Homo sapiens: one gene and its partners. The protein of the gene in region 3 purifies or fractionates together with the protein of the main gene of each other region. This does not show direct contact. Each region holds a gene or a part of one and is shown on either strand. Other genes may lie near its edges. The genes, in order: CAD, ANXA6, KCTD7, KCTD3, CPNE3, EFEMP1 and CLN5.

The links.
Region 1: the proteins of KCTD7 (region 3) and CAD purify together in Homo sapiens (affinity purification with mass spectrometry, with the first as the bait; one large-scale study listed by BioGRID). This does not show direct contact.
Region 2: the proteins of KCTD7 (region 3) and ANXA6 purify together in Homo sapiens (affinity purification with mass spectrometry, with the first as the bait; one large-scale study listed by BioGRID). This does not show direct contact.
Region 4: the proteins of KCTD7 (region 3) and KCTD3 purify together in Homo sapiens (affinity purification with mass spectrometry; one large-scale study listed by BioGRID and IntAct). This does not show direct contact.
Region 5: the proteins of KCTD7 (region 3) and CPNE3 purify together in Homo sapiens (affinity purification with mass spectrometry, with the first as the bait; one large-scale study listed by BioGRID). This does not show direct contact.
Region 6: the proteins of KCTD7 (region 3) and EFEMP1 purify together in Homo sapiens (affinity purification with mass spectrometry, with the first as the bait; one large-scale study listed by BioGRID). This does not show direct contact.
Region 7: the proteins of KCTD7 (region 3) and CLN5 purify together in Homo sapiens (affinity purification with western blotting; one study listed by BioGRID). This does not show direct contact.

What each region holds. Positions count from the first base shown.
Region 1 is NC_000002.12:27,233,796-27,238,253, forward strand, and holds part of CAD (multifunctional protein CAD), read left to right. Parts: coding exon 1-13; intron 14-212; coding exon 213-431; intron 432-722; coding exon 723-890; intron 891-1,449; coding exon 1,450-1,632; intron 1,633-1,740; coding exon 1,741-1,845; intron 1,846-2,488; coding exon 2,489-2,728; intron 2,729-2,953; coding exon 2,954-3,035; intron 3,036-3,583; coding exon 3,584-3,750; intron 3,751-3,922; coding exon 3,923-4,087; intron 4,088-4,260; coding exon 4,261-4,392; intron 4,393-4,458. UniProt on the Homo sapiens protein: Multifunctional protein that encodes the first 3 enzymatic activities of the de novo pyrimidine pathway: carbamoylphosphate synthetase (CPSase; EC 6.3.5.5), aspartate transcarbamylase (ATCase; EC 2.1.3.2) and dihydroorotase (DHOase; EC 3.5.2.3).
Region 2 is NC_000005.10:151,129,968-151,134,425, reverse strand, and holds part of ANXA6 (annexin A6), read left to right. Parts: intron 1-1,238; coding exon 1,239-1,332; intron 1,333-1,854; coding exon 1,855-1,950; intron 1,951-3,136; coding exon 3,137-3,195; intron 3,196-4,458. UniProt on the Homo sapiens protein: May associate with CD21. May regulate the release of Ca(2+) from intracellular stores.
Region 3 is NC_000007.14:66,638,881-66,642,171, forward strand, and holds part of KCTD7 (BTB/POZ domain-containing protein KCTD7), read left to right. Parts: coding exon 1-352; 3' UTR 353-1,513; coding exon of another isoform or gene 1,514-1,514; 3' UTR 1,515-3,291. UniProt on the Homo sapiens protein: May be involved in the control of excitability of cortical neurons.
Region 4 is NC_000001.11:215,597,902-215,602,359, forward strand, and holds part of KCTD3 (BTB/POZ domain-containing protein KCTD3), read left to right. Parts: intron 1-3,965; coding exon 3,966-4,053; intron 4,054-4,183; coding exon 4,184-4,300; intron 4,301-4,458. UniProt on the Homo sapiens protein: Accessory subunit of potassium/sodium hyperpolarization-activated cyclic nucleotide-gated channel 3 (HCN3) up-regulating its cell-surface expression and current density without affecting its voltage dependence and kinetics.
Region 5 is NC_000008.11:86,558,947-86,562,468, forward strand, and holds the end of CPNE3 (copine-3), read left to right. Parts: 3' UTR 1-2,552; downstream 2,553-3,522. UniProt on the Homo sapiens protein: Calcium-dependent phospholipid-binding protein that plays a role in ERBB2-mediated tumor cell migration in response to growth factor heregulin stimulation.
Region 6 is NC_000002.12:55,913,193-55,917,650, reverse strand, and holds part of EFEMP1 (EGF-containing fibulin-like extracellular matrix protein 1 precursor), read left to right. Parts: intron 1-4,458. UniProt on the Homo sapiens protein: Binds EGFR, the EGF receptor, inducing EGFR autophosphorylation and the activation of downstream signaling pathways. May play a role in cell adhesion and migration. May function as a negative regulator of chondrocyte differentiation.
Region 7 is NC_000013.11:77,002,081-77,005,617, forward strand, and holds the end of CLN5 (bis(monoacylglycero)phosphate synthase CLN5), read left to right. Parts: 3' UTR 1-3,037; downstream 3,038-3,537. UniProt on the Homo sapiens protein: Exhibits palmitoyl protein thioesterase (S-depalmitoylation) activity in vitro and most likely plays a role in protein S-depalmitoylation.

The DNA of each region.
Region 1 (4,458 bases), on a different chromosome or scaffold from region 3:
CCAGGAGGCTAAGGTGGGAGGCTGCAGACAGTGAAGTCTCTGAGGGCATGCTGCCAGCCCTGGAGGAGACTTCCTTCTCTGGTCCAGCAGAATCATAGGCACCAGGGCTGGGAACAGTGGGCTATGTGGGGCTCGTTAAAGGAAGAGACAATCCTAGAGTAAGTGAGAGAAGAAAGTGGCCCTATGTCCCACTGTCTGTGTCCCCCCGCTAGGAGATTGACGTGGATGCCGTGGCCTCTGATGGTGTGGTGGCAGCCATCGCCATCTCTGAGCATGTGGAGAATGCAGGTGTGCATTCAGGTGATGCGACGCTGGTGACCCCCCCACAAGATATCACTGCCAAAACCCTGGAGCGGATCAAAGCCATTGTGCATGCTGTGGGCCAGGAGCTACAGGTCACAGGACCCTTCAATCTGCAGCTCATTGCCAAGGTAATAAGGCTAAAGGAAAGAACTAAAGGGCCACAGCTCTTGCATGTTCTGTGCTGGCCACAGTGCCATGAAGCCCTGCACTGTCTCCTGCCTTCATCCAAGTAGGCAGGGAAGCTGGAGGGAAAGGGCTGTAGCTAGAGCTCATGGTGTTGGGGCTTATGACAGTCAGTGACCCTGAACCCTGCTCAGTCTGATCCCCCAGAGCTGAGGACGGAGAGGAAGAGTCTAGGCCTATAGATAGTGTCAGCAAGGCCAACCTGCAGAAGGCCTGACCAGTCTTCTCTGCCCCAGGATGACCAGCTGAAAGTTATTGAATGCAACGTACGTGTCTCTCGCTCCTTCCCCTTCGTTTCCAAGACACTGGGTGTGGACCTAGTAGCCTTGGCCACGCGGGTCATCATGGGGGAAGAAGTGGAACCTGTGGGGCTAATGACTGGTTCTGGAGTCGTGGGAGTAAAGGTAAGGAATATCGAAACCCTTGGGGTTAGCAGAAAAATAGCGGGAGAGAGTTCACTCACCACACAGAGTTGTCAGTATGTAAACCAGGCACTGACTGCAAGGCATTGCCGGATCGTGGGGGTAATGAGGTGGTCATTGTCCCTTAAGAGCTTACTTTATGGTAATGGGAGGGAAGAGAAGTTGGATCCCCAAAAAAGCTTTGGTATAGAACAGTCCGTGGTAAAACTACATATTCGACCTGTAAACAGAATGCTGCAGGAGTTCAAGAGACAGGAGGTGCTGCTTCCAAAAGGGGTGATCTGGGAAGGCTTGAGCGAAGGGGTGCTATTTGAATTGAGTTTTGAAGGATGGTTAAGGTTTTTTATTTGCAAGGGCACATCCTAAGCAGAAGCTGAGGGATGACCCCAAGTACGTTTGGAAAGCAGGAGGGCACACAGAGAGGGCAGGCTGACCCTGCCATTCAGATGGGATCAAGCACAGGGTACTGTGTCCGTCTCTGCTGGTGAGGGAGGAGGTCCTCTCACACCTTGGCCCTCTCTCTTCCCTCCCGCCCCTTTAGGTGCCTCAGTTCTCCTTCTCCCGCTTGGCGGGTGCTGACGTGGTGTTGGGTGTGGAAATGACCAGTACTGGGGAGGTGGCCGGCTTTGGGGAGAGCCGCTGTGAGGCATACCTCAAGGCCATGCTAAGCACTGGCTTTAAGATCCCCAAGAAGAATATCCTGCTGACCATTGGCAGCTATAAGGTATCAGAATCCAGGAGGGCTTCCCGAGGGCCGTGGCTCCCTGGGCCAGGGCTGACCTTGAAATGGAAGACAGGAAGAAAACAATTTCATCCTTCTGTTTGGTTTCAGAACAAAAGCGAGCTGCTCCCAACTGTGCGGCTACTGGAGAGCCTGGGCTACAGCCTCTATGCCAGTCTCGGCACAGCTGACTTCTACACTGAGCATGGCGTCAAGGTGCAGGAACTCTGGCAACCTACCCCACTGCTGCCCTTCCCCAAGGGGGTGAAAATACTGCACCAAAGAATTATCTGGGCTGGGCACGGTGGCATATACCTGTAGTCCCAGATACTCAGGAGGCTAAGGCAGGAGAATCTCTTGAGCCCAGGAGGTAGAGGCTGCAGTGAGCTGCGAGTGTGCAGTGAGTGCACCACTGCACTCCAGCTTGGGAAACAGTGAGATGCTGTCTCAAAAAAAAAAAAAACAAAGAATTATCTCCTATTCCCCTGCTTTTATTATTACCATTATACTAGTAAGCTATATTCCATGCAGAAAGCAGAATACACAGGAAGCAAAGAGAAAAGTCTCTTAAAATCTCTGTACCACTGTTCTGATATTTTTCCTTCCAGGATTTTCTCTGTGTACATGTGTGTGAGCTCATACTGCACCTAGTCCTTGGTAACCCATCTTACTTAGTGTAGATATCTTTCCTGCCAAGAAATACACTTTGCCAGTATCAAATAGAGGCAGCCCTCAGTGCCCACCCTATGGGTCCTCAGTCTCCTCATCATGGGCTCCTGGGCCAGCTCCTCTCCCTTAAGGCTAGCCTTCCTGACCGCTGCCAGACAGCTTGGCCCTGACCTTGACTCCGGGTTGGCAGGTAACAGCTGTGGACTGGCACTTTGAGGAGGCTGTGGATGGTGAGTGCCCACCACAGCGGAGCATCCTGGAGCAGCTAGCTGAGAAAAACTTTGAGCTGGTGATTAACCTGTCAATGCGTGGAGCTGGGGGCCGGCGTCTCTCTTCCTTTGTCACCAAGGGCTACCGCACCCGACGCTTGGCCGCTGACTTCTCCGTGCCCCTAATCATCGATATCAAGTGCACCAAACTCTTTGTGGAGGTAACTGAGACCCATGTGCTGGGAGGGAGACTGCCAGTGTTGATGGGAAGAAGAAAGAGGGAGGAGTGAGTATGGAACAGCCATGCTAGTAATAAAGCTTTGTGGCTACAGAGGGAGAGATGGTGGGTATAGAGTGTGCAGAGCCTGGTTTATGGGAAAACCACATCTCTCCCTACAACTCCCAGGATCACCCTTCCCTTAAAGCTGACTGCTTTCCACTTGCAGGCCCTAGGCCAGATCGGGCCAGCCCCTCCTTTGAAGGTGCATGTTGACTGTATGACCTCCCAAAAGCTTGTGCGACTGCCGGGTAAGTCTTTGGGGAGAACTTGGCTTCTGAACACTGGCAGCCCCTGGCATAGAGACCTGCAGTGTGGTGAAGGATGGCTGGGGGGCCCACTCTTTGTCCTGGACTGCACAGACTGTGAAGACCCCAGAATGTTTCTCACTCTTTCATTCCTTAATCCACAGTGTCCACAGTGGCCTTGTCTGAGGAATTTTTTTTTTTTTTTTTTTTTTGAGACAGAGTCTTACTCCATCGCCCAGGTTGGAGTGCAGTGGTGTGTGATATCGGCTCACTGCAACCTCCGCCTCCCAGGTTCAAGCGATTTTCCTGCCTCAGCCTCCCAAGTAGCTGGGATTACAGGTGTGTGCTACCACACCAGGCTAATTTTTGTGTTTTTAGTAGAGACGGGGTTTCACCATGTTGGTCAGGTTGGTCTCGAACTCCTGATCTCAGGTGATCTGCCCACCTCGGCCTCCCAAAGTGCTAGGATTACAGGCGTGAGCCACCATGTCCAGCTCACCCTTCCTATTTCTGAATCTTCCTGTAATCTTGCTGCTTCCATTTTCTCCCAGGATTGATTGATGTCCATGTGCACCTGCGGGAACCAGGTGGGACACATAAGGAGGACTTTGCTTCAGGCACAGCCGCTGCCCTGGCTGGGGGTATCACCATGGTGTGTGCCATGCCTAATACCCGGCCCCCCATCATTGACGCCCCTGCTCTGGCCCTGGCCCAGAAGGTGAGCCACTGCACTCTTCCTGGTATTGGAGACCCATATGCCCCTACCAGCCACCCTTGCTTCCCTGAGCCCTTTTCCTTCTGCCCCGCCCTATGGGCCCAGGCCACTGGTGCCAGGCTAGCCTGTGTGGGCATGGGTGCCAGTGAGCCTTACCTCTGTGTATCCTCTCCAGCTGGCAGAGGCTGGCGCCCGGTGCGACTTTGCGCTATTCCTTGGGGCCTCGTCTGAAAATGCAGGAACCTTGGGCACCGTGGCCGGGTCTGCAGCCGGGCTGAAGCTTTACCTCAATGAGACCTTCTCTGAGCTGCGGCTGGACAGCGTGGTCCAGTGGATGGAGGTAGGGAGTGTGCATGTGGCAGGAGGCCACCACCCAGTGTCTCCTGGCTTGTGGGCCCCTGCCTAAGTGGGCTGGTAGCAGTGAGGATTCAGGGGAGCTCCTGGGGACTCTGGGCTCTGATGAGCACAGTCAGAGATTCTGCACACTCCTTCATCAGTTCTTTCTGCTCCCAGCATTTCGAGACATGGCCCTCCCACCTCCCCATTGTGGCTCACGCAGAGCAGCAAACCGTGGCTGCTGTCCTCATGGTGGCTCAGCTCACTCAGCGCTCAGTGCACATATGTCACGTGGCACGGAAGGAGGAGGTAAGAGTACACCTGAGATCCTGCTGTCCCTGTTGCTTTCCCAGTAACACCAAAGGTCAGGGTAGT
Region 2 (4,458 bases), on a different chromosome or scaffold from region 3:
TAAACAAGCACCACTGAAAGTCCCTGAGGCACAGCAGAAGAGCCTTGGGAGGGGAGAGGTTGGGGCCCTGGGAAGGGCTGGAGGTGAAGTCATTTGCATCAAATACCAGAAATAACCCAGCCACAGCTGTCATGTATACCGGTGCTTTGTTGAAGAAAAGATATAAGTTATCTTTCAAAGGTATATCCCATATGTAATATTGGTATATTGGTGAGGTGTACTTTGGAGCTTTCTTTATTCATTCAGTTTTTAGATATTATTGAAGTAAAATACCTAGCATGTGCTAGGCACTCTGCCAAGCATTTAGAAATCACTAATGAACAAAATCAAGTGGTACCGGGAGAGACAGGCATACATTAATCACACAAACACCTTCTCTATCAATATACTGTACATTGCAGGTGTTTTGAGTACCCAGTACATGCCAGCAGCACTACAGGGGCTGATACAGAGAATGCTATGACATAGTCCCTGTTGTTGAGGAGCTCATGCAATAGTGTGGAGATAGACAGGTGAAGAAATCATTATCATATACAGTAGATCAAAGTGATAAAGAAGTAGAAAGCTATGGGAGCCTAGGAGAGGGAGGAAAGGAGGGAAATAGAACTGTGCCTGGGGGCATCGGGAAGTACTTTGAGAAAAAAATGGAATACTTAATCTGGGCCTTGAAGGTTGAGTAGGAGTTTCTCCAGAAAGAAAGGAAGAAAGGCATATAGGTATAGTCATGTACCACATAATGGTGTTTTGGTTAATGATGGACCACATATATGATGCTAGTCCCATAAGATTATGGACCAGATATGTGATGCTAGTCCTATAAGATTATAACCCCATATTTTCACTGTGCCTTTTCTATGATTATTTATGTTTGGATACACAAATTCTTGCCATTGTGTTGCAGTTGCCTACAGTATTCGGTAAGATAACACGCTGAACAGGTAGGTGTGCCGCCTAGGAGCAATAGGCTATACCACGGAGTCTGGGTGTGTAGTAGGCTATGCCATCTAGGTGTGTGCGAGTGCTCTATGATCACACAATGGCAAAGTCGCCTAACAATGGCAGTTCTCAGAATGTATCCCCATCATTAAATGATGCATGACTGTTTTATTTGCAAAGGTCTTCAGGCTACCAATTACTCGTGTGTTCAGGGATCAGGCAGCAGTTCTGAGTGGCTTGGTCAGTGTGTCCTGTCTCCTGAGGTTTCCTCTTTCAGTCAAGTGCCACCTCTTCCCCTTCAGGACCTATACGAGGCAGGGGAACTGAAATGGGGAACAGATGAAGCCCAGTTCATTTACATCTTGGGAAATCGCAGCAAGCAGCATCTTCGGTTGGGTAAGCTCCAGAGAAGACCTGAAGCTGCTCCCTTGGGTTGATGCCAATAATGCCTTTCTTTATCTCTTTTCTTTTCTTTACCACTAATGGAACATGATACCTACTTCATTCCCAACCCAAACTTTAGTCCTGAGTTTATTAGGTTGGTGCAAAAGTAACTGCGGTTTTTGCCGTTTTTAAAGGAATGGCAAAAACCGCAATTACTTTTGCACCAACCTAATATCAGACAGCAGTTTGTATAGTCCCTCAGCAAAGTCATTAACAGGATGCTTGGCCTTCCATCTCAGTGCCAGTCCTGTCTCCATGTTAGGGGATGAGACACAGTCTCTCACCAGCTATGAAGCTCATCTGCACAGCGCTGGTGATGTGCGTGACCTCCCAGTCGCCTCCATCATAGCACCAGCCCTAGCTTCATGGTGGACAGTCGTCCTGGCCACTGTGCCCCCCTGCTCTTGAAGTCCTCATTTCTTCTCGGGGGTACAGAGGCACTCTCAAACCTCCCTGTCTCTCTGTCTGACGCAGTGTTCGATGAGTATCTGAAGACCACAGGGAAGCCGATTGAAGCCAGCATCCGAGGGGAGCTGTCTGGGGACTTTGAGAAGCTAATGCTGGCCGTAGGTATGTCCTGACGTTGCATTCCTGGGGGCTTTAGGGGATTCTGGAACACTGGCCTAGGAACAAGGGGCTGAGAATGGAAAGGGGAATTACATGGTATAGAATTGGGAAGGAGAAAACCATGTGGGCCGTGAATTCTAAAGGTTTCTCCAGGGCAGCATGGCTGAGGCTGGGGACGGGAAGGGGGTTTGAGCCTCAGGTACTGACTTCCTCCAGCTCCCTTCTCCACCACTGGCAGGGGGACAAAGAGCTCTGAACTTGGGTTGAGGATAATGATGATCATAATAGTTGACTTTTGTTGAGCATCTAGTGCATGCCAGGCACTGTGCTGAGTGTGTAATCTTTAAAAAAGACCCAGCAGTGGCCACTGCCATGATCTCTATTTCACAGATGAGGAAACTGAGTCTCACCAGGCTGATCATTTCCTGAGGGGTAGTTTTGTAATGAGTTGGGGGTACTGAGAACGTGAGGATGTGAGGAACTGGCTAGTCAGTGGTGGAGCCAAGATTCAAACCAGGGCTTCTCCCACATGGGCTTGGAGCAAGTCACTTCTGCTTGCTGGACCTCAGTTTCCTCATCTGTTAAGTGGGGTGCAGGGTGTGGGGGCAGGAAGGATGGACTGCCTTAATTGCCTCCCCAGAAGCCCTTCCAATTCTGGCATTCCAGCAGTTAGCATGTCTGAGTCAGGGATATGTTGTGTGTTTGTATTTCTTGGGGGAAACCTGCAGCTCCTTTATCGTCCCTCCCAGAGCCATCCCCTGCCCTCCCTGTTTGAAGTAGTCAGCCAGTGGGACTCACGGTGATTCAGTGGGATTCACAATGATTCAGCTGCCAGTACCTTTCTGGTGTAGCAGGTCTAAAAAACACCTTTTCCTCCTTCGCCCCAGACCCTACCCCCACCCCAGCTCAATTCCCTGTTAAAACCAAAAGGACTAGAAAGATAAAGGCGGTCTTTGTGATGGACTTCAAAAGGATTATTTCAACAAGATTATTTCCTGTTTATTCCCTGGGTGTGCGGTAAAAGTGGGTTGGTCTGGGGTGATCTGGGGCTGTGAGCTATCAGGAACGGTGGTTCTTCCTGTATTGAGCTAGGTGGCCCTCAAGGAATAGAAACAAAGAGGGAGTCAGGCCATCCCATCCCCCTTCTGAGGCAGCCAGAATAACTCTACCTCTTCCTCCCTCTTCACAGTGAAGTGTATCCGGAGCACCCCGGAATATTTTGCTGAAAGGCTCTTCAAGGCTATGAAGGTGCGTGGTGGGGCTGATGTGAATGGGGTTTGGGGAGAGGACTATTGGGAGTCTTTGACAAGTCCTTGGGATCCAGTGGCCAAAGAGAGCCCTTCAGGGATGGCCACAGGACTGACCCTGGTGAAGGTGCTCTGTCGCAGGTGAGCTGTAGAGCCAGGAATGCTGCTGGTCACATGTCCTGCCACCTGCATACCTGCCTGACGTCATGAGTCAACAGATGAACTTAGGGTGGCAGCCTGCACCTGATCCCTCCAGCCAAATGGGTTGGCGGCTCGGACTTTGAAGAAGTATTAACCAGAATGTTTTTATACAGCGTATGTAGGCAAGACCACTTTGGCCTTGCCTGCTAAGACTCATGATGCTCACCCTGTGACAGTTCCACTCTGGGTGTGTTTCTGAGAAAGCTTCCCAGGCTTTTACACATATGACGCACAAAGAAACTGGTATTTTTGTGATGCACTGGAGGAAATGAATGCAGTTATTTGCTGCCAGAGGCCTGAGGCCCGAGACACAGGAGCTTGGGCCTTTCTGGCCCTGGTTGGCCATTCCGAAAGGACAAAGTAGACTGTCGGCCATTCTCTGCCCACCAGTGTGCCATAATGAGGTTGGGCAGCTCAGCCCTAGAGAGATGTTTGCCTGTATGCATGAATTCATTAAGAATGCCCATCACAAGGCTGAGTGCATGCAGTGGCTCACACCTATGATCCCAGCACTCTGGGAGGCCAAAGTGGGAGGATCACTTGAGGCCCAAAGTTCAAGACCAGCCTGGGCAACATAGTAAGACCCTTGTCTCTACAAAAATAACAAATAGAACTAGCCAGGGACTGTGGCACATACCTGTAGTCCTAACTACTCGGGAGGCTGAGGCAGGAGGATTTCTTGAGCACAGGGCCCCTGGGTTTGAGGCTTCAGTGAACGCAGTGCTATGTGATCACGCCACTGTACTCTAGCCTGGACAACAGAGTGAGACCCTGCCTCTTCAAAAAAAAAAGAAAAAGAAAAAAAAAACTTATAACAGTATTGCTTATATTAGGAAAAAGCTAGAAACAACCCAGTGACCATCAGGAATAGTACAGCAAAAACCTAAATGCACAGTGGTATATTTGCAGAGTTCCAAAATGTGTAAATCTAAGTGTATTGCTTAGAGTTACAAAGCTATGGTAAAATTATAAGGAAAATCAAGTGTGGAAATTATACATGAAGAGAGAAGAGGTTTATAACAGTGAGAGGGCCGGGCATGGTGGCTCATGTGTGTAATCGTAG
Region 3 (3,291 bases):
CGCCCGGCTGCGTGCGGTCCAGCGGAAGGCCCGCTTTGCCAAGCTCAAGGTCTGTGTCTTCAAGGAGGAGATGCCCATCACCCCCTATGAGTGTCCGCTCCTCAACTCCCTGCGATTTGAGCGGAGTGAGAGTGACGGGCAGCTTTTTGAGCACCACTGTGAAGTGGATGTGTCTTTTGGGCCCTGGGAGGCTGTGGCTGATGTTTATGACCTGCTGCACTGCCTGGTCACGGACCTCTCGGCCCAGGGTCTCACCGTGGACCACCAGTGCATCGGGGTGTGTGACAAGCACCTCGTGAACCACTACTACTGCAAGCGCCCCATCTATGAGTTCAAGATCACATGGTGGTGAGTAGCCCCGGTAGGCGAGAGTCCCATCAGGGAGGATGTCCACCTTGCTTGGTGGCTCTGGGAGTAAGATCCCTGAAGGGGCTGCTGACTGCCCCAGAATCTGCCGAGGTGAGAACAGCATCCTGAGGCACAGCTCCCAGGGGACAGAGGTGTAGCTCCAATCTCCCTGACTGCACCTCAGGGTTGGGCTCAGGGCTTGCGGCCTGCAGGCACTCCAGCCAGCGCTCACCTGGCCTTTCCTCAAGGCATGGTAGTCTTTCCTTGAGGCTGATAGCTAGGGCTTGACCAGGAAGTCCCGAGAAGTTTTGTCACCTTCTTGACCTTGCAAGAGAGTTTCTGCCCATTTTAGAGCCACGTTACCAAATCGATGTAGGCCTAATCACTTCCTCAACCCTGTTCAAGCGTCCCTCCCTTGTGCTCAGTATATTGGTGTGAACACGGAACATGATGGGGGATTTACCTGACCAGCCACCCCATAGCCCCTGGCTGAAGAAGAAAGAGCATCTTCTCTCCCACTGCACCCCTTCTCCTCCAAGAATAGTTGCCCACATTCCCAAAATGTGGAAAGACTTTTCTTTTCCTTCCGGAACATGTTCTTCACCACCTTTTGGAGATTTAACCATAGCTGCCAAAGCTATGCACCCAGTTGGCCTTAGAAAACCACAATGTTTACAGCCCTGTCTTAGGGCCGCGGCTTCTCTTATCTTCCACCACCTTCCTTGCTTGCAGGGTTATCTTCTCACAGGGCTGGAATGCAAATTTCAGAGGCTTCTTTTGAAGATTCCCCAAGTCAAGCAGGCAAGATGCCTAGATCTTCTGTTATCTTTGACATGTAACATCCTTTTTAGAGGCTCAGAACACCTCCTTGGCTGCTATCTCATGTGTTAGAATCCAGTTTGTGGTGAACCTCTTTGGAAGGGGACCCCCTCTCTTTAAACCCTGTTCCTCTGTCCTGGTAACATTCTCCTTCTAGGAGAGCCTCTCTTCTGAGAAGGTAAAGGAAGGGCTGGGTGAGACACACAGCTATCCTAGGAGCCGTAGGAAGACAAAACTTCCCTTTTGTTTTACTCCTCACTCCTCTATTTTTGTTTTACTCACTTCTTTATATTTTGTTTTACTCCTCACTCCTGTATATTTTGGTTTACTTACTCCTCTATTTCAGAAATTGAAAAAGATCCCCAAGGATCTGTTACTACTGCATTTCCTTCTTGCTCTGTCTACAGCCTAGGCCAACTAGTCAGGGTCTGGACATGCATCTCCTAAAGGAAGAACTGTGTAGCACCATTGATCACAATGTAACATTTCCATGCTGCATTAAGGGTGTCTCTCTCTAATCATGATTGTACCTGTCTCTTCCTGGGTAAAGGGAGATTTTTTTTTTTAATGTGTAAAGAATTGATGCGAGCCAGGAACATGTCTGTAGTCCCAGCTACTTGGGCACACGCCTGTAGTCCAGGCCACTCGAGCACACACCTGTAGTACCAGCTACTCTGGAGGCTGAGGCAGGAGGATCACTTGAGCCCAGGAGATTAAGACTGTAGTATACTATGATCGTGCCTGTGGCTAGCCACTGTGCTCCAGCCTGGGCAACACCATCGTAAAAATAAATAAATAAATAAATAAATTGGGGAGGACAGCCTCACTGGTATCAGACTTACAGGACCAGATAGACAAGATGGGTATAAGGGGAGCTGAAGTCTGTGTTCATATGAGGAAGAGAAGACCAAGCCCTGGGACTTTGGCTGAATTCCTCCGTGGGGCTGGACGGCAGTGATCTCCTGTTCCCTATGTGTAAACAAAGATTCCAGGGCGTGGTTTTGCACTCCTGTTGTACTCTTTTAGAGGTGGAAAAGAGGTGGATACTGAGATCTAAGAGGAAAGGATAGTCATTCACGTTCTGAGATATGCGCTCTCTCTATTGTTCTCGTACACAAAGGGATAGTCTCTTTTCTGGAGCTGATGTCCCTGCTTGGAGGTTAGCCCCAAAACATGGCTCTTGTATTGTTCTAAGAGAAAAGGCTTTCATTTTGGTTCTTCTGATTGGTGTTACCTACTGCCTAATATGTGTTCATTTTTTGACAGAGAGGCAGACTATTGAAAAAGTCTGTGTGAACAGAGAGCAGTTCATTAAGCCCATTGCTTTCAGTAATGTGGCCTTGACCCCTTCTGCTTCCCCCTTCTCCCATGGAGCATGGCAGGGCTTGGTTATTTAGAGTCCATACATGCAAGCCATTGAGAGACTTGTTTGCTCAAATGCAAGTTTGCTCAAAAACAGGTCCTGAAGGCTTGCTTAGGATTACAGGGATGCTGGGTAAGAACACCGTTCCTCTCTCTCGCTGGAGAAATCCCTGTTTCTCTGACTCCCTTTGTGATCCTCACAGTAATGTATTCTGTGCCACTGTAGGACACAAGGCTCTGGGCCAGTAGAACAGGCAGAGAGGTGACACTGGGCAGCAAGCTGAGAGCTCTTTCTAAATGGAGTGAAGGAATTCAGTGGCCTAGTTTCGCCATTCTCTAATGAGAAACCAAGGCCAGGCTGAAAAGTGCAATTAGATGTGGTGGATTGTGGTAACGGCCTCCAGATAAAGGGGTTATCCCTGTGGAAGTGACTTTTCCCCATTTGATCCCTTTTCAACTCTAAATGGCCAGGCCCAGAACAGAAGAAGGGTTGGGTCTGGAAGGAAGGCTCCAAAGGATGAAAGCTTCTCCCTGATCATAAGGAAGTGCATCTTTATAGAATTGTTGTGCATAATGTCAGTAAATCCCTCTCACTTGACAAGGGACTGGATTCATCTTGCCTTGAGACGGGCCAGTAGTTATCAGTGAGTCAAAGCAAAGTGAAAGTTTCAGGAGATGGGACCAATGGTGCAATGCTCGCCATAACAAAATTCCTTAAAAATAAAAAAGCTAATGTTATAGCAACAAAAAAAGACTGAAGCA
Region 4 (4,458 bases), on a different chromosome or scaffold from region 3:
TCAGTATTGTCTTGACTGCTGTCTTAACTGTGGTCTGTTTGCTTACTTACAGAATTTATAGTAAGAAATATGAGATACTTACTTAGATTTAGACTTTCTAAATTTATATATAGAAATACTAGATACAAATATTGAAACAATGTATATTGTTTATACTAAGTATTAAGTTAATTGACTAGTTTGTTTATACACACTTTCATACCACATACCAAAGTAAAGGCTCTGGGATCTGGGATTTTAGCAAAAGTAGGAGGCATGATTTCATGGGACAGTAGAAATTGAGCCTCCTACAAAAATCTGAAGTTTTAAGTTTCTCAGTCCCTGAGAAGACTGGGAAAAGTTTGCCCAGTAATCTTGGAACAAGAAAGTTTGATGTGTGTTTGGTGTCTTGGAATGGGAAAAGGAGATGCAAGAGGAAACCATTAGAAATTGAAACCAACATATTCAAATTAGGAGTGAATTGAAGCACAAAGACTTGCCTTTGTTCTATGAGAACTCCAATTTGAGAAACTGATCTAGGACTATTGACATTTCTAGATACAGATATGACACCAGTTAGAACACTTTCTCAGAAGAGAGCACACAAGAATCCTGTAGAAAGAGTAATTTCTGCTAAAATAACCTCCCAAAACTTATAAACTTCACATGGAAACAAATAACGAAAAGTCATTAAACAAGAAAAAATTTGCAATCCCCAAATTGGAAATAATGGAACAATTAGAAAGCTGCTGTATTGAAGGAATAGGACAAATCAGAAAATGGAGGGAAATAAAATACTGAAAATTAAAAGGTCATTGAAAAAAAATTTTTAATTTTATTTAATGGTTAAATAGAAGCGCAGCTAAAAGAAAATTAGTAAATTGACAGACACGTCTGAGAAAATCATTTCCAGTTGAGCCAAGAGTGAGATAGAAAATATGAAAAAGAAGGAAAAAGTGAGAAAGCATTTCAGATAGGAACAGACTAGAGGAGCCATATTGAAAAAGATAACAACTGCTAACATTTTGGAGAAATGAAAATGGGCATGAATTTATTGATTAAAGAAATGTACCAAGTCTTGGCAGCCTGAATGTTTAAATGTGCTATAATAAAAGATAAATTATGATAAAAAGTATTCATAGAATAGTGACAGTTTGCCTGTCATTAGACTTTGATCAGATTTCTCATCACCAGTAGTAGACACCAGAAGACGACAACGGGCATTCTCCAAATGGTAGAGAAAGTAACTTTCAGCCTAGGTTTTCATACACAGCAAAACTATCATTCAAACCTGAATGAGAAGGGTTTTTTTTCAGAGAGAATTTTTGAAAGGACTACTAAAGAAAAATGCCTTTTGAGAAGAACGTTATATTTGAAGGGGAAGAAATGGAATGCATTAAGCAGTGATTAGGAAAGATGTTGGTAAATACGATGGTAAATTTAGATAAGTGATTATTTAAAAAGTAATGGACGAAGGTTAAAACATCCTGTAAAAAATAATGATAAGTTTACAGGTATAGAGATTGTAGTTAAAAGATTCTAGGGGCCTTATATGGGAAGATAGACTGGTATTTTAAAACTGTAAATTTAAATTTACATGTAGAAATTAGTGGTAATCACTGTGTGCTACCTTATAAGAGAAAAATCCACTTCCATTTTATATTTGTGACCACATGACTGAACCATGCATACTAATCAGTATGGTTTCTTGGATTCTTGCCATGAAGTTGTTAGGACGAAGAAGAGGAGGCCACACAGTGGCTGCTTCCTTGCTTGTGCTGGGAGAGAAGAACTCAGCAGTTGTAACTCACTGTAACTCTGCTTATCCTCTGCTTTCTCTGTTTTCCCGTATGGAGGGGTAGACATGGAAAGAAAGGCAGATCATGATTAAAGGTTACAGAAGGAGAAGTAGCAAGGCTTTAATCCTAGAGCCCATCCTCCCAGAGAATAAATGGTAAAAATGTTTGCCTTTGTGCCTTGGGAAGCGCTAGGCTCCTGCTGCTCTTTCATTGAAAAAAAAAAAAAAAAAAGAATGTATCCAAAGGGAGAAGAATCTCATGGCCTTATCTGTCCCCATTTTCCTGCCATGAAGAATCTGGGGCAGGAGTTGAAGCCCTTTCCTTTAGTGCTAGAACTAAAATGATTTAGCTAACTTGAGTAAGAAAATTGGTTAGTGGTGTGTAAAGCAGTCTCCCCTCCATCCTTTAGACATCTTTACTGATATCACTGAAAAGTACTCAATGTTTTCCTGGTATAAAATGTTTTGGCATTGGCTTTAATTAAAAGCCTGACCTCAGGATAGGGCATGATGATTGAGTTCTTTGAGATATTTCTTGTGTAACTCATAACTGCATGACATTGAGAGGGTACAGAAATTAGGATTATATACAGGAAGAGCTTAGAGGAATGATTATTTCCAAGTTTTAGTTATTTCTGTTTTTAATTAGAATGAACCTAGATTCTGTGCTTTTTTTACTTGCTCTTCAGATATTCCCTTTCCCCTTGCCCTACCTAACTCATAGTTGACTTCAGTCTTCAAGCTTCACTTCCTCTGTGAACCTTCCTTGATCTTTGCTCTTCACCCACCAGCACTGAGATGGCAGTTCTTCCCCTCTCTCCTGTGATTGTATTGTAGTCTATTTTAGTGCCTGTCACACTATAATTGTCTGTTATTTTTCTTTCTCACAAGTTACCAGCTCCTAGAGAGCAAGGGGATACCTCACATCCCTTATCTCTAGTTCATTGTTTGTTTTCTTGGATAATATGTGGTACATAAAAAGTACTTAAATGTTAAGCAGATAATGTTTAGATTTTAACTTTTCAAATGAAAGCCAGGTATAGTATATGAAAAGTAAAAGTCCCTTAACATTTTTAACTTTTAAATTATTGGAAATCTTTTAGACTTGTATGCAAAACTTGGTGTCTTAGTAATTCAAATGTCATCTGTGAAGAAGCTTAACAGGCTTGTCTGGCCTGGCTGTAAACAGGGAAGATTCATTTTGATGAATAGTAGAATATCACTCTAGTAAAATAGTATTGCAACTATCCTAGCAAACACATTTTTTTTTTTTTTTGGATACCAAGTCTCACTCTGTTGCCCAGGCTGGAGTGCAGTGGCACAATCCCCGCTCACCGCAACCTCTGCCTCCCAGGTTCGAGCAATTCTCCTGCCTCAGCCTCCCGAGCAGCCGGGATTACTGGCATGCGCCACTACGCCCAGCTAATTTTGTATATTTAGTAGAGACAGGGTTTCACCGTGTTAGCTAGGCTGATTTCGAATTCCTGACCTCTGGTGATCTGCCTGCCTCGGCAGGTTTCTTTTAGCACAAATATGGGAAGGTATTAATTTGTAAACTAGATTGATTTTCCTGGAAAAACTAATTTTTTTATTCCTATACTTTAAAAAAATAAATACAAATGAGACTTTGTTTCCCTTGCCATTTCCTAGAAAAGAAGTAACCTTTAGCAAGGAGAATGAAAAATAGAGAATACCACCTTTTCAGAGAAATAATAAATTATCAAGGGAGCAAGTACTTTCTGGAAATCAGTTGCTTTGTTTACTAGTTCTGATTCTGTCACTTGCTTACTGTGTAACTTTGGACAGGTCATTTAATCTCTTGTATGAGAAAGGGAAAAGAGAGGGACCTGGTCAGACTCGGCCTTCCAGTTCTAGTGGGCTGCAATCTAGTGATCACATGCAAAAAAAGAGGAGACAACCAATCGAAATTGAGAAAGGAAAGTACTGCTGTGGGAAATACAATTTAAAAAAAATATTTTGAAGGAAGTATATTGATGGTTCTCCTCTGTAGCATGTTTGTGTATATGTGTGTGCACGCGTGCACCTAAAGAAAGTTTATTTCCTAAGCCCTACTAAAATTGGATATTGGTTGCCTCTTTACCAGAAGAATCAAAGTTTTGAGGAAATTGACCAGAAAATAGAAATTATAATTACTATCTAACATCTGATAATACTCTCACTACATCAGGTTCAAGATGTTGTTCCTATAACTAGTTATGACACTGCTGGATCATTCCTTCTGCTTGGATGTAACAATGGATCAATATATTACATAGGTAAGTGTTCAGTCACTTAAAATGCTCCTGCTTAATGTAATTTTTTAAATGAGAACAAGAAAACATTACCTTTCAGTTTTAAATAGATATGCTATTTATTTTAATGCTGTTTAAAATTTTTATGTTTTAGATATGCAGAAGTTCCCCTTGCGAATGAAAGATAATGATCTTCTTGTAACTGAACTGTATCATGATCCTTCAAATGATGCTATTACTGCTCTGAGTGTTTACCTCACACCCAAAACAAGTTAGTACATGGCCAATTATATACATTCTTGACTTTTTATCTTTTTATTCATTAGTTTATTATGTGACTAGGTCAAATTAAACTGGTTTATTTCTTTTTGAGAACTGCAGTGCCTAAGGATTTCATCTCTACTAAGTCTAAAATTTGTATTCAGTTTT
Region 5 (3,522 bases), on a different chromosome or scaffold from region 3:
TTAGACACTGTGGTTTACAAAACAGCATGCACTCAACTTGGGACTTTATGAAAAGTACTGAATGAGCAGGAAAAGGCACATACTCAGTTTTTTAAATGTACAATCAACAAGTAAAAATAACCTCATGTAAGTAAGCCATTTTTATTTGCCTTTCTAGATATTTTATTTTATTGTGGAAAACTGTAAACATGGTCAGATTTGGCTTTTTTTTTCATTAACTGAGCAAGACTTTCAGGATATTGTAGATGCACAGATGGTAGGTTGTCCTGAATTCTACATTATTAGATTACTTTAATTGAGATTTGTTAAAACGGTTAGGACTGTTTTGTCCAGGAAAGATAAGAGGACCAAACATATAAGGTGAAATTCAGAATTCCGTTTCCTTCTAACTAATGAAAAACTGCTTACTAAAAAAAAATTTTATACTTTCCTTGCTAAGGTCCCATATATTGATTTGTACAGATCCACTTAGTCATTTTCTCCTTTTTTTAAGAACCATTTTCATCTGATTTTTAAACTCACGATACCAGTTATCTGTTAATCAAAATTGCATTTTACAATTTAATAATGTGATATTTCCTATGTCTACAGCATACCTTATTAGGTATAAAACCTACTGCAACTTAGAAAAAGGAAAGAAAAAAGAAAACTTTTCCAACTGCTGCATTAAGATAGGGTGGATTTTATGTGCTTTTTTTTTTTAAGAGTTGAATTTCTTTTCCTGACTTTTACCTTTTACAGCGTATTACTTAGTGAACATTACATTTTCAGAATAGATCCTAATATTTTATTGAGGGCCTATGTGCTAAAAACTATGCATATCTATATATTGGCCAATTATCTTTAATAATTTACCTTTTGAAATTGCATGTTTATCATATATCCTTAAGTGGACACATACAGTGCCATGTTGATGTGCCTCTCAGTTTTATTGAAAAGCTGCCCCACAGCCCATGTCTCTTGTTCTCTGCAATGCCTCAAGGGAGTGAGCTCTCAACCACAGATAGCTGTGGCTTCTCAGAAGCAGCTCATTGCCAAGGCCAGGCTGAGAGGGGACCTGCTTGCTGTGGTGGTTGCCTAGCCCAGATGAGCATTTACCTACCACCTTCCCACTTGGCTAGCTGTCCTTTGGATATGTGCTGTTAACTGGGGAAGGCATCTAACTAGTAGCCTGCTACTCCATAGTATGGCTCAATAGATGACACATCATTTTGACATTATCAATAGGAGAAAAGAAAACTAACCCTTCTTCTGATTGTTTGGAGCCATAGTTGTCTCAGATGTTCTAATTCTCTTTGTATGCTTGGAAACAGCATAGATATGTTGCTGTGGTTTTCAGAATTTTCTCTTTTAATCACAAGAAGCCTTTTAAAAAATGACTTACACATATTCTCAATGTACAGTAAAACAGACAGAAGTGAGCTTATCTGTTTGATGCTGTGGCAGGGTCCCAGTCACTGGGCATATCCTCCTTCTCCTTAACCAGCTCCACAGCAGCCCCTGAGTCACCTGCACAAGGTGCTTGGGAACTGCTGGTTATGAGCATTCCTGGTTTTCTTCAGCCAAATAACAGGTAATCACTGTCAATTGGATTTGGTCTTCATTATTTTATATTCTGATTTTATCAGAATTATTCTATTTTAAAATTGTTTTAAAATTTAAAACATTTAATTCATGATCATGTTCATCAGTAGATGCTATTATTCATAAGAACTGTGATTCCAGCAAACTAGGGTAATTGGTGCCTTTTTACAGTTTTGAATAAAAGCATTTACAATTTCTAAATTATCAGTTTTCACAGTTTCAGCACTCAACCTCATCATACGCTGATTTAATATTGTTTTACATTAAAATAGTCCTTTTCCCTGTTGTGCCACCATTCATTTAAGTGCTGTTTGTTCTTAAAATGCATTTAAAGAAAAATTACCCATATTGACTTTCACACCTCATATAATCAGATCTATTACAAATATATATCGGAGTGACGGTGCCCAGGATAGATGTAATATTTCTTACAGATGCTGGCACAGAGGAAATAATATACCAGCTAATCTAGTCACCTAACCTTGTGGTTAGAATTGCAATTTTAAGACCAGAAAAATTTGAAGTCTGATCAGAGATTTACAACTGTTCATTATAGTGGTGCCTTAGGCAATCTTTCCAAAGTAAATTCAGGGCCCCATTGCTACTTATGCCATATTTGGACATACTTTTTTTTTCTTCAATTTTGTAAACTTCCTGGAAAGCTGTCTTCACTAAGTATCCCCTAGTCTCTATATATGTGGTTAGTAGTCATGGAAATGACACATAAAGTACGCCAGAAGTTTGATGGAACGTGTTAGAAACTGTTTTGTGCTTTTATGGATGTCATACTTGACAATACATGTGTAAGTTACTAATATATGAATTGATGCTAAATATATCTTACATTTGAATTCCTTTTGGATAAAGTTATTTCTTGATGTGACAGAGTAGTGTGTTTTCATTTTTATTCTTTACATGTGACCAAAACAATAGAAAAGTTAAAAATAAAATATAGTGTTTTAGGTGGCCTTTGACTTCATATTTTACTGAATTAAACAATTTGGGGGATATTATTTTATGGGATTTATTTGTTTAAAAGATATTGAGTGGGTCCAAGATACTCTTCTGGGTACAGTAAAGGAAAGATTCTTAGCTTATAGCTAGAATGGCCTGAGATTATCAATCATGTTAAGAAGGATAGTGTAACCACCTAATTTTAAAAAAAATGTTTTAATTGCTTTTGTCATGGGCATTGGGCAGGACTTTGCCAGTGGTAACCAAGACAGCCACGATTGCTGCCTTTGTAGAAATAATGGTCTAGTGGGGGAGAGAAAACATTGAGCAAGTAATTATAGAGATGTGAGATCTGTGCGTGAAACAACATACAGTAGAGAGAGACCTAACCCATCTGAGAGGCAAGGAGCACTTCCCTGAGGATGTGCCATGTAAGCTAAGACCTGAAAGTTAGCTAGGTGAAGAAGGTTAAAAGCACTTATGAAGCTGTCAGGCCAACAGCAAGTATAGAGTTGAATGTTCTAGGAGTGGACAGAAGTTTGAGTTTGCTGAAATATAAAGTATAAGAGGGAAAGTGGTAAAAGAAATGAGGTGGAGTGGTTGGTGGTGTTTACATCCTGAGGGCCTTTTGGGGCAGGTAAGGGAGTTCAGACTGAGGCTTAGGGTAATGGGATGCCACTAAATTGATTTAAGCAAATGAATGATGTGATTATATTTGTGCATTTGAAAAACCAGAGGACCATACTTTTTAGGGCAGACAGATGAGTTCAGAAGCCCACAGAGTTCCACATGGAACCCTGTGACCAAATGTGGGTCTAGTCGCAATGGCTTTGCCTTGGTGAAGGCCAGATGGCAGAGCTGATAGTGGTCACCTTCTGGCAGACACTCAGCTGTTTGGTCACATACTTTCTAAGTGTCTGATTCTAGGTCTGTTTCCAAATTCTGAGCTTTTCCTGCCTCACTATCAAATTGTCTGGTAGACCC
Region 6 (4,458 bases), on a different chromosome or scaffold from region 3:
TTTTCCTAACCATTGAAAGCTTTTGCCCAAGTGCACCTCGTGGTGAGGATGATGATAATTTATTAAGGACTTCTCGCGTGCCAGACATCATGCTAAGTGCTTTGTCTGCATTATATTTAATCATCACAATATTCCTAAAGGGTAGTTGCTGTAGTTGTCATCATTGCTTTACAAATGGGAAACTGTGGCTTAGAAAGTTCATCAGTGGTTCCCAACCCTAGCTGCCCATATTTAGAGTCACTTGGGAACCTTTAAAACTTCTCGATGGCGAAGCTACACCCCAGCCCAGTTAAATCACAGTCTCTGAGGTGGGTTCCAGGCATCGGCTTTTTTTTCAGTTCCTCATGTGCGGCCAAGTTTGAGAACCAGAGGTCACACAGGTGCTAAGTGCAGAGCTGACCTTCCAACCCAGGAAGGCGGGTGCCAAAGTCACAGCTGGCAAAAGTCACCATCAGGTTATTCACTGGGAATTTGAAATTATGCTGTCAAGCTACTCTACAGATGTACCCCTTTGGTTTCTCAAGTTTCTTTTCATCGAACTTGCCACAGACTTATTTTCCTCATTCAGGAGTAAAGAAATGGGGCTCCTGCTTCTCATTACCTTGGAGGGATTCTCCCCCACTCACGTTTATATCTCTTTTAAGCTCTCATTTGACGACGTTTCACTTATATCACTTGCACCATGGCATCATCTGCCTAGGGTTTTCTGTTTATTTTCACAGAGCATACACATCACTGTGTATTCTAGAAACAGCTGTAGGCTCGTATTAGCAAAGTGATAAGAATCTGGGGCTTTGAAGACATGTAGGATATTAGCTAACTGAACTGTGCTATGAGATTGTTTCCCTTTCTTCTTGGCAAACCATTTCAGAGCAGCCTGGTGTGGAGACTGTGTTACTGAAATGGGGCCATAGGAGCCTCCAGACTCCTTTCTCCCTGCCAGAGGCTGATTAGGTAGATCCCATAGTGCAGAACTCCATGTCACCACCACATACGTGTATGGCACACGTGGGCCAATGGAAAGGGTCCAGGAGTTCTTACTTTCTAACTGGTCATGTGTAAGGAAGAGAGCACCTTCCTCCCTTAACACCAAGGGTTTCAATAGAGACCACTGAGCTGCTACATTAAATGAAAGATGCATTTTCTTGTGCCCTGGGATGCTGCCCCTTATTCACCCGTGTTTAGTTTTATCTTCTGTGTAAAAGATACTCGAGTTTAAATGGCTTAAAAATGAAGCAAGGGGCTGGGCACGGTGGCTCACGCCTGTAATCCCAGCACTTTGGGAAGATGAGGCGGGTGGATCACCTGAGGTCGGGAGTTCAAGACCAGCCTGGCCAACATGGCGAAACCCCATCTCTACTAAAAATACAAAAATTCTCTATGAATGGTGGCACATGCCTGTAGTCTCAAATACTAGAGAGGCTGAAGCAGGAGAATTGCTTGAACCTGGGAGGTGAAGGTTGCAGTGAGCCGAGATCATGCTACTGCACTCCAGCCTGGGCAACAGAGTGAGACTCTGTCTCAAAAAAAAAAAAAAAAAAAATGAAGGAAACTTGTCATGCTCTGACTCTTATTTATTTCATATTTTGTTTGTAAGCTTTAAGTACCCCACATCAAGACCTAACCCATGTTGTGATGGTGTCACTTTTCAGAGGGTGCATCGTATTAGCATCTGTTTCGTGTTACTGTCATGAGTCAGAATTCCAGTATTGATGATGAATGCTTCAGCATCTGCTTGATATTCTGATATTGAATTTAAGGATTATGTCAAGGAGATAAAATGATGAGGTTATTCTTATACATGTATTTGGGTTAATACTGATAAAAAAAATCTTGAGTTTATTTAAGATAGACCAACTTTTAATTGTGTTATTTAGTTATATAACTAGACTGGAAAGTTTGGTAGTATTTTTCCCAAAATCAAAAAATTTTGCTGAAAAATTCTTAAGTATCAACTTTTATATACTGAATTATTTTGAATACTTTAGATGTGTACTTTAATGGTACTTGGGAGAAAAAAAAACCAGATAAATGAATGAGTCATTTCCCAAAGTAGTTTGTAGACCGTCATTGACATTTATGGTTGAATTCAAGAACAATGCCCAGAACTAAATGAAGAGGTCCTAGAATAAAATATATTCAAGACTTACAACATGTATTGGTTACGGTAGAAACTGTACTGTGATTAATGAAAATAAAATCCTATTTAACTTTTCTAGAAAATATTTAGACTACCTAACAAAGTAAGTTACGTTTCACATAGTAAAACATTTATAGTTCTTTCTTCTTTGGGAATTTTTTTTAGTTATAAGCAGACTATTAAGTGCCTTGCTTATGGAATATGCTAAATACATACCTGTTGACTGTGTGCACACAGGTTATTTCCAACCCAAATTGATCTGTGTAATTCAGCCAGTTTCTAAAATTTGGGATTGGTGTCTATACCATTGAAAGCAGGGTTAAAAGTTTTTTGGAAGGCTTAGGGCTTAAGTTGGATTTCTTCCCACCTCACAATTTTGCAAAGTGCCCATAAATGTGGATTTACTTAATTGTTGATAAAAGGGGGTTATTTCATATGATAACAACAGGATAATCTGTCTAGGGAATTTGACTAACATAAGTCGAGTCACACTTGTGCCCATTTCTTATTGAGCTAATCAAACATGCAGTCCAGCTTCTTCTAATTGCCTGCAGATGTATGACATTCTCATTCCAGGCCAGCAGCACAAAATAATATTTTATAACCAATGTGGAAGTATGGGGACCTCTGTTTAGAACAATAATGTGCTCTAAGGACCTATATTATTGACATCATCATGGAGTTTGAAGAGTCTTCTGTTTTAATAAAGATCTCCACTCCCTTTTAAATGTTGCATATTTATGCCCAGTAATCCAGACACATTTCCTATGGTCTACTGGATAGAATAAATGAATCTTACAGATGAGTCTTATTTGCATAAAAATTATTTCTTTTTTCTATGTATATTTTTTAGCAGGTATAGTTTATCATTATATAACCTAAAACTCAGGACATTTTAAATGTAAGAACTGAAATCTGTACTGTGTTTCAGTCTTCAAATCAATTGTGCCTTTGAATGCACTATACCAGTCACAGATGGCTTCTAAATAATTTAAATAATACCACTAGATATTTTAAATGTACACTATTTTATAAATATATCCTTTAAATAGCTGTCCATTTAACTGTTTAATGAAAACATGATATGTTTATTCCCCTTCATGTATTTTTGGGGGTGTTTTCAGTTTTGTACAAAAACAAGGAGTTTGAAATACAACATAACATTCAAAGATCAGGTCACAGTGAGCAGGTTTTTTTCAGGTAATTTTTTGCTAAATGAGGATCATGCTGTGGGAGCCAGTAACGCTGGGAGTTTCCCATGACTGACATTATTCTTGGCATCTATAAAATGAAGATCATTTCAGTGTTACATACCTGGGGCCATGTATAGATAGAGTTTTCGAAATTAATTGTTTCCATTAGATATCATCTGCCTCAAAGACAACAGATACTCATCTACACCAAAAAGAAGTTGAATGAATGGGGAATATATTATAATCTGTTGATGGCTCACTTTAGTTTTCTACACCTTTATTGCATAGTCTCTTTCTCCTTTTTTTTTGAGACAGAGTCTCACGCTGTCACCCAGGCTGGAGTGCAGAGGTGCTATCTTGGCTCACTGCAACTTCCACCTTCTGGGTTTAAGCAATTCTTGTGCCTCAGCCTCCCGAGTAGCTGTGACTACAGGCGTGCACCACCACACCCTGCTAATTTTTGTATTTTTAGTAGAGATGGGGTTTCACCATGTTGGCCAGGCTGGTCTCGAGCTCCTGACCTCAGATGATGTGCCCACCTCAGCCTCCCAAAGTGCTGGTGTTACAGGCCTGAGCCACTGTACCTGGCAATAGTCTCTATATAATCTTTCTAAAGGAGATGGAGTTAGAAATCACTAGATGAAGTTGAGAAAGGATTTTTTAAAATCATATATAACTTTCTAAGACTTCCATTCCTGTATTAAAAAAAAAAAGTCATTTGGGAACTGACAAGAAAGAGAAAGCATTGATTGCCCTAATTGAAGAAACTTGTTTGTTTAATTGAACTTTAAAAAAATTAAAACACATGGCATTTTGCATACCTGGTAATTAAGCCACTAATAAACCCTGTCAGGACTTACAGGCATGACTACTAACTTGGTAAAGAAACTGTGCCATCGAGAAATGAACTCAGTACGAATGTCCAATAAAGTTGATTGTAAAACCAAATCGAGTACAGTACCTGGCTTATGTTGTATAAAGTATCATTGAGAAATATGAAAAAAACATACCCTAGGGTTTCCACCATCTCTGTCTACCAGGACTGTCCAGTTTCAAAACCAAAAGCTCCATGTTCCTGGAAATGCCTTTGTCCCAGGCAAATAGGATGGTTGAGCCCCTAGCATA
Region 7 (3,537 bases), on a different chromosome or scaffold from region 3:
AGATGGAGTAGATATCAGATAAAACAATTCACGTTTAATATGTAAATGTACCAATTATGTGATTCAGTTTCAACTTTCAAGTACTTCCTGAGAGGTTAGTACATTATTATTGAGCTCTCACAGAAAGCTTAATCATAGATATAATTAACCTGATCCAAATGAGTAAAGTGGACCTTAGAAAGGCTAAGTGATCTTTCTCTGGCTATCCAGCTAGTAGTAATGAAGTCAGGTCTTGAACCCCGGTTCTGCTGACTGAATTGGATGCACTATAGTACAGGCTTTTAGCACCGAAGTGTGGTCCTCAGACCAGTGCCTGCCAACCAGATGTTACTGGTCTGTGAGGAAATAAGTACAGATACTGACAGGAAGCTTTTATAAACAATTTATTGGAGTGTTTTTGTTTCTGTTGGGTCTAATTAAAAAAATTGGAGCTTGTATTTTATGTGTCTTTGGTCTTATTTTGTCTAGGAATTCATTTTTGCTGGGTTTTTTTTTTTCAACTGTAGTCCCACAACAGTCTGAAAATAACCCAGTCACCAGATATCTTCCTCAAATACAGAGGGAGAACTTTCTTTCACGCCTCCTTTAGCCTGTCGACTCCTTATAATAATGCCTAAATATTCCAAATTAATACTGCCTCTTTAACCTGCTAATTGTTTTCACAATGTTACAAGAAAACTTGGATCTGTGCATTATCACCATCTAGTGGCTAAACTCAGGCAACACGAACTTCTACCAAACTCAGGAAATTGCTCTGGAAAAACTACAGGATTTTGGATTTCCAGAACTGCCTTGAAGAGACAAAGATTCTTGTACCAAGTTTTGGTCAACTGCAAATCAAAGAACTTGGTTATGCAGGGAAAACAAATGAGGATATCTGTACCTGGAACTTTTAAACAAGATTCTAATAGTTATGTGAAAAAAGCATTCAAGATTTTTGAGTAGGCACAGTGGCTTACGCCTGTAATCCTATCACTTTGCGAAACTGAGGTGGTGGAAGGATCACTGAAGGTCGGGAGTTCAAGACCAGCCTGGCCAATGTGGTGAAACCCCGTTTCTCCTAAAATTAAAAAAAAAAAAAAAAAGCTAGGGGTGGTGGTCCATGCCTGTAATCCCAGCTACACGTGAGGCTAAGGCAGGAGAATCACTTGAACCCAGGAGGCAGAGGTTGCAGTGAGCTGAGATGGCGCCACTGCACTCCAGCCTGGGCGACAGAGCGAGACTCCGTCTCAAAAAAAAAGCATTCAAGATTTTTCATTGTTCCTAAGAATCTTAATTAAATGAAGACAGAAAGCATCATAAAGTCAGGTAACTACAGCACAGACAGCATTAACATTTACAAAAGTATTTCTTAAGAATTAAACCTGTCAGCTCTACTTACAAGATGTAGAGCTTTCAGGTGAAGATGATTCAAGAACATGCTTTCAAAATAGTAGTTGAGAAACCAAAACATAGCCACGCAGAAATCTGCCAATTAAGTTTTGCTGCCCTTTGAGCAATATGACTTAATGTGATTTACTTTAATTATAACTTAAGTACAACTTAAATGCAGTTTCTATTTTGCTATTGTTATAGATGTAGGCTGGGTGCGGTGGCTTATGCCTGTAATCCTAACACATACTTTGGGAGGCCAAGGTGGACGGATCACTTGAGGTCAGGAGTTCGAGACCAGCCTGGCCAACATGGTGAAACCCCGTCTCTACTGAAAATACAAAAATTAGCTGGTTGTGGTGGAGCATGCCTGTAGTCCCAGCTACTTGGGAGGCTGAGGCAGGAGAATCACTTGAATCCAGGAGGTGGAGGTTCCCACGAGCCAAGATCGCACCACTGCACTCCAGCCTGGCAACAGAGTGAGACTCCGTCTCAAAAAAATGTTGTAGATGTATAAAATTTATACATTTTTAGTCTGACTAGGGCTTTAGAGTGAATATATCTCCTCATTAATCTGGCACAAAATTAGTTAAGTAAGTATACCCACAAAGTGTCATCTAATATATTGTTGCATGTAGAGGAAAACACAGTGAAGAAACCTACTAACTTTATTTGGAACCCTCAATATTGGTGGCTCCTTAAAAATTGGAGAAAAAAATCAAGTCTTAGGAAGTCTTATCCAGTTTTATGGTCTGCTGTGGTGGCACTTAATGAATTACCTGGAATTATAGTTCCTGTAAGATGTTTTATTTTTTAAATAGTTGGCAGGCTATACAAAGAGTGATGTTCCAAAACTACACACATGCTTTTTCCCTGTTCACAAAGGCAAACAGGCTGGCCAAAGTGTTTCCAGCATCTTCGTCATATTTACCCTTTATTATCCAAGTGGTTTCCTGCTCTTCAAACCTTCCTTTCAAAATTTTGTCTCCTACTTAAAACAAGTTAGGATTATTTATCCTTTTATTGGACTGATTATTCTAAGGATAAGCTCTTACTTCACTTTCGGAGTAAAAGGCTTTGTGCCCTTTTTAAAGTTGGGTGTCAGCAAGCAGCTGGAATTTTCCTGCCTGGTAAAATTAAAACCAGCCCCACAAACTGGGGTTGGAGTCTGTGCAAAGCTCATTACTATCTATGTGTGGGGTAGAAATTATAGTGTGTTAAAGGACCTAGTGTAAAAAAAAAAAATTTTAAAGGACCTAGTGGAGGCTTGAACCTTCTTCACATGAACGTCTTCCTTTCAGCCTAAAGTTCTTAAAATGCACTAAATTGACTTAATCTTCAATCATACCTATTTTTTCTGATATGGTTACAACAGCCCAAATTACCAAGATAAGTTGAAAGCCAGTAAAACAATGAAAATAATTTCAATAGTTGAAAAACTATTCTAATTTATATAAAGACATTTATCTCTAAAAAGACTGGTTGGGTTCAAGGACCCTTAAAGACTGATTCTATGTCTAAATAATCTGTTTTATAAGTTCTCATTCTGAATGCAGAAAGAACCTATTATTTTCTGTATAAAAATTTAAAAATTTATATTTCATGGTAGGTTTTAAATTTCCTATTTCTTTAGGCATCAGAGCTTATTTCAAGAATAGATTCCATGAGCCTAACCTTGTATCTTCAAAAAGGCGAGTCTATCATAAACATTGTTTAATATTAAATATTATATCCATCAAATATGGATTTGAAACATTTTTAAGTTTAAAGTCAAATGTTTGTGTAGTTTTTAAAAAGTAAAATACAACAGCATTAGTAACTTTTTATTCTCAAAGTGATAAAAGCATTTAACATATACTTTACAGTATAAACAAATTAAGTACTATGCATTTTGCTTATAAAGTGACAAAGTATTTTAAGCATTATATAATTCAATTTGTACAAAAAGTAAATTTCCAAATACAAGCTTTGGTTAGTAGAACTGATTATGTACTGTCAAATCCATTTTTCCAAAGTTGTTCAAGGAAAAACAACAACTTGACTAGCACAGGTAATTCTTGTACAATCAGAGCTTTTTACTATTTAGAAGGAGGGGATATATTACTATAATTGCTGTTAATTTTCGAATCTAGATAAGCCTTTTTTCTTCTCATATGTTGCTGTAGG